Linked DNA regions of Homo sapiens: region 1 is linked to region 2. The links come from fine-mapping of genetic effects on gene expression. Tissue or cell type: whole blood. Region 2 holds a variant in brackets; the other region holds the start of a gene. All regions are shown on one strand. Distances are from middle to middle.

What was found. PIP is the estimated chance that this variant, and not a neighbour inherited with it, causes the effect.
Region 1: it holds the start of DUSP16, and the variant in region 2 is fine-mapped to the expression of DUSP16 in whole blood (TOPMed, PIP above 0.99).

Annotation. Positions count from the first base shown.
Region 1 is chr12:12,561,711-12,564,334 of GRCh38, forward strand. DUSP16 (dual specificity phosphatase 16) reads right to left here and starts at 1,153. Exons shown (of 7, transcript NM_030640.3): 1 at 407-1,153. RefSeq lists silencers at 53-252, 273-392, 423-502, 953-1,462.
Region 2 is chr12:12,410,540-12,413,299 of GRCh38, forward strand. The region is part of intron 2 of BORCS5 (BLOC-1 related complex subunit 5); the gene reads left to right. Among named protein-coding and RNA genes, the nearest start is that of BORCS5, 55 kb to the left of the region's middle. The variant C/T (reference allele first, on the strand shown) is at 1,209.

The DNA.
Region 1 (2,624 bases), 150 kb after region 2:
ACAGTCGCGCCTGGAAGTGAGCAGCTTCGCCCGCAAAGGTGCCGCGTCCCGCGGCGGCCGCTCCTCTCGGCGGGGCCCGGTCCAAGCGCCGCGCAGCGGCCGGGAGCGCACCCACTGCGACCCCGCGCCCGGCCGCACGCCCCCTTCCCGCTCCGGCCAGCCTCCGGCCAGGCCTACACCCCCGCTTCAAACGCTCCTGCGGCCCCCGGCCGCGGTCGCCCCCACGCCGCCTCCCGAAAGGGTGGCCGGTACGCCCGGGAAGGCAGAGACGGCGGGGCTGGAGCGCGGCGCCCGGCACCGGGAGTCGGGGCGCGCTGCGGAGCGTCCATGCGGCCGGGCGGGAGGGCGCCCCGGGCCCCGCACCCTCCCGCCCGCACACCCCGCGCGGCCCGCCAAGGCCACTTACTTTTGGGGCCGCCGACCTCCCAATTCCCTCAGAGGGAAACGAAAGTTGTCACGGCGTCTCCCCTCGGGCCCCCCTCGCCTCCCGGACTTGCGAGGCGCCGCCGCGGAGCCGAGAGGGCGGCTGCGCTCCCGCTCGCGTCCCGTCCCGTCGCTCTCCTCCTCCTCTTCTTTTCAGTATATTATCTTCTCCTTCTCTGAGGGGTGGGTTGGGGCGGGAGGCTTAGGAAGAGAGGAGACGCTCGCAACTTTTCTTCACTCTTTCTCTTCCACCCTCCCCCCCATCAGCCTTCAAAAAAAATGTCGAAAGAGATGAAGAACTTAGGGAGGTAAAGGTGGGGGGCCGCGTTGTGAAAGTGGGGGTTGGGGGGGAGAGAGAGGTGGTAATAATCGTTTAAAAACTGATTAAAGCCCCCCAAACACTGATACATAGAAAGAGGGGGAAAGGCGGGGGGGTGGGGTGGGGGGTTGGGGGAAAGAGAAAGAGTCGCTGGTCAGGAAACTTCAAGCGCGGATGAGGTCATTGGTTTAAAAATAAAGAGATGGCGTCACTTGAAACCAATCCCAGTGAATGAACTCAGCGGAGCCCCGGGGAAAGGAGGAGACAGGCGAGGGCAGGGCGGTGGGCGCCGGGCGGGGCCGCGCGCTCGCCCATCCCGCGGCCGCCCGAGCCCGGAGCGCGGCTCCGCGCCTCGTTCCGGCCGCTCGGGGAGGGGTCAGGTCATGTTCCCTTCCAGAGTCCGGCGACTCTGAGGCAGGTTCCGCGGGCGCCGCTGGGAGGAGCCGGAGCTGCCGGAGGAGGCGGCCCCGCGGCCTCCTCCCCCACCTCTCCCTCCTCCTCCTCCTCCTCCCGCGCCCGCGCGCCCGCCCCCTACCCCCGGGCTCGCGGCCCCGACCCCCGGGCCGGGGTGTCCGCCTCCAGTGCTGCGCCCCAACAGGTATCGGAGGGTTTTCTCCCTCACCCAGACGCAGAACCTTTCCCTCCTCCTTGAGCTGTTTCCAGCTGCCTCACCAACGTCAAAAAACGCAAACACTGATTTGAGAGAATTACACTCGCTCTGTAAAAAGTCTGGCGAATGCAAAAGGCAAGGCTCTGCCATCTCTCAGGAGAGAAGTTACAGGTACTTCAAGAAAAATCACACTACTGTTGTCAGGCATTCAGCTATCTATATGTTTATGGTTGAAAGCCCCCACATAAATGTTCCTACATTACTTTACTTTGCTTATATTTACAAATACAAGGATAAGCAGCCTACATTTTCTTTAAAAATGTTTTCTACAGGAGGCAGCGCAGAAACATCTTTAAATAAGACCAGGGGTTAACCGCCTCTTGAGAGGTACAAAACCCTTGTTGATTTAACTCCACATACCTCGTGCATTTTATTATTTGAATTCATTAAAATGTCTGTTTTGAGATGACATTATGCACTTTGGAAAACGAGAGACCTGAGGTGGTGACAAACCAGGACTTGGAATCACTGAATAGGACAATCGGAGCTTTATTCCAATGTTCTTTGAGCATTTGAGCATGAAGCTGCTTCTACTGAGAAGTACTCACGTGGATATCACATAACAAAGATGTGATTAATGACGGAAAAGCACCCTGCGAGTGGACTGCTCCATGAGCCAGAATTTATGTGTAGGAATAATCTAACTCTTCAAATATTCCATTTACAATGTGCCGGATTGGGACACTAGACCCTAAAGGCACTGTTTGCTGTGGGATATCCATGTGCACCCTGCCTAAAGCACGTTTTTCCACTAGCAAAAGAACTGATAAGCAGGTTTGGGTGGGTTCGAAAGATAATACACCCCTGTTACTACTTTTCTGCCTTTAAGTCCTGCAACTAAAGGCATTCCTTATGATTGGTAATCATTGAAGGTTAGTGTTGCGGGGTATGGCCCTGGGAACTTCTGGCCCATCTTTTATAGGAGGGAAAAAAAAAGCCCATTTGAAGATGGGAGGCACCCTAGCACCTCTGGCAGTAGTAGGTAAAGCCTGAAGGCCACAGATGGAGAAGCAACTTTGAGCCTGTGCCTCTGGCCTCTTGAAGACTTTGCTAGGGGAAGCAAATCTCTCCCACTGCTCCCTGTCCTCTGGTGGCCAGGAGGTGTTACTGCAGCTTCCTTGGGATTATTTGTGCTCTACCAGGAAACCCCTAAAAATCTAACTGTAGACCTTTGTTGGAGGTGTTGGGATTTTTAGGAAGGAAGAAGAAGAT
Region 2 (2,760 bases):
TATGCGGCATTATTTCTGAGGGCTCTGTTCTGTTCCATTGGTCTATATCTCTGTTTTGGTACCAGTACCATGCTGTTTTGGTTACTGTAGCCTTGTAGTATAGTTTGAAGTCAGGTAGTATGATGCCTCCAGCTTTGTTCTTTTGGCTTAGGATTGACTTGGCAACACGGGCTCTTTTTTGGTTCCATATGAACTTTCAAGTAGTTTTTTCCAATTCTGTGAAGAAAGTCATTGGTAGCTTGATGGGGATGGCATTGAATCTATAAATTACCTTGGGCAGTATGGCCATTTTCATGATACTGATTCTTCCTACCCATGAGCATGGAATGTTCTTCCATTTGTTTGTGTGTTCTTTTATTTTATTGAGCAGTGGTTTGTACTTCTCCTTGAAGAGGTCCTTCACATCCCTTTAAGTTGGATCCCTAGGTATTTTATTCTCTTTGAAGGAATTGTGAATGGGAGTTCATTCATGATTTAGCTCTGTTTGTCTGTTATTGGTGTATAGGAATGCTTATGATTTTTGCACATGGATTTTGTACCCTGAGACTTTGCTGAAGTTGCTTATCAGCTTAAGGAGGTTTTGGGCTGAGACCATGGGGTTTTCTAGATATACAATCATGTCATCTGCAAACAGGGACAATTTGACTTCCTCTTTTCCTAACTGAATGCCCTTGATTTCCTTCTCCTGCCTGATTGCCCTGGCCGGAACTTCCAACACTATGTTGAATAGGAGTGGTGAGAGAGGGCATCCCTGTCTTGTGCCCGTTTTCAAAGGGAATGCTTCCAGTTTTTGTCCATTCCGTATCACATTGGTTCTTTCATGTGCTTATTGGCCATTTGTATCTCTTATTTGGAGAAATGTCGGTTCAAGTCCTTTGCCCATTTATGAATTGGGTTGTTTGAGGTTTTTTGTTGGGTTTTAGGAATTCTCTATATATTCTGGATATAATATACATGTATATAATAAATGTATATAATAAAATATACATGATTTGAAAGTATTTTCTGCATTTTGTGGGCTGCCTTTTTACTCTGTTGATAGTATCTTTTCATGCATAAAGTTTTAAAATTTTCATTGTCCAATCTATCTTTTTTTGTTGTTGCCAGTGCCTTTGGTGTCATACTTAAAACATTGTTGCCCAATTCAGTGTCATGAAACTTTTGCCTGCGTTTTCTCACTATAGGAAACTATAGTAAAAAACATTAAA[C/T]GTTTTATTGTTTTAGATCTTACATTTAGGTCATGGATTCATTGTTAATTAACTTTTGTATATGGTAGTAGGTAAGGGTCCAACCTCATTCTTTTGCATGTGGATAGCCAGCTTTCCTAGCAGCATTTGTTGAAAAAACTGTCCTTTCCCAACTGAATGGTCTTGGTGCCCCCAACAATCATATGACTTTATATGTGAGGGTTTGTTCTGGGCCCTCTGCTCATTTCTGTGGTCCATTTGTCTGTCTTTATGTCAATGCTGCACTGTTTTGATTACTGTAATTTTAAGTTTTGAAATCAGGAAGAGTGAGTCCTCCAGCTTTGTTCTTCTTTTCAGGATTGTTTTGGCTATTCAGGATCTCTTGAGATTCCATATGAATTTTTGGATGGATCTTTCTATTTCTGAAAAAAAGTCACTGGGATTTTGATAGGGATTGCATTGAACCTGTAAATCACTTTTGGTAATATTGACATCTTAATATTAAATCTTCCAATCAATGACTATGGGGTGTCTTAACATTTGTATGTGTCCTCTTTAATTCCTTTCAGCTGTATTTTATGGTTTTTTTTATTGTACAAGTCTTTCATCTCCTTGGTTAAGTTTATTCCTAAGTGTTTTATTCTTTTTGATGCTATTGGAAATGGAATTGTTTTCTTAATTTCCTTTTTGGATTGTTCATTAGTGAATAGAAATGCAACTGATTTTTGCATGTTGACTTTGTATCCTGCCACTTTGGTGAATTTATTTATTTATTAGTTCTGATAGTATTTTTGTGGAACATTCAGGTTTTCTATATATGAGATCATATCATCCGTGAACAGACATAATTTAACTTCTTTCTTTCTAATTTCGATGCCTTTTATTTCTTCTCTTGTCTTATTGCTCTTGACAGAACTTCCATTATTATGTTGAATAGAAGTGGTGAAAACAGGCATCCTTGCTTTATTCCTGATCTTAGAGGGAAAGCTTTCAGGTCATCACCATTGAATATGAAGTTTGCTTGCATTTCTTTTATATGGCTTTTATTATGTTGAGGTAGTCTCCTTCCATTCCTTGTTTGTTGAGTGTTTTATTTGTTTGTTTTTATCAAGAAAGGGTGTTGAATTTTCTCAAATGCTTTCTCTGCATCAGTTGAAATGATTTTGTGGTTTTCTTTTTTTTTTTTTTTTTTTTTTTTTATTGATAATTCTTGGGTGTTTCTCACAGAGGGGGATTTGGCAGGGTCATGGGACAATAGTGGAGGGAAGGTCAGCAGATAAACAAGTGAACAAAGGTCTCTGGTTTTCCTAGGCAGAGGACCCTGCGGCCTTCCGCAGTGTTTGTGTCCCTGATTACTTGAGATTGGGGATTGGTGATGACTCTTTTTTTTTTTTTTTTTTTATTGATCATTCTTGGGTGTTTCTCGCAGAGGGGGATTTGGCAGGGTCATAGGACAATAGTGGAGGGAAGGTCTGGTTTTCCTAGGCAGAGGACCCTGCGGCCTTCCGCAGTGTTTGTGTCCCTGGGTACTTAAGATTAGGGAGTGGTGATGACTCTTAAGGAGCATGCTGCC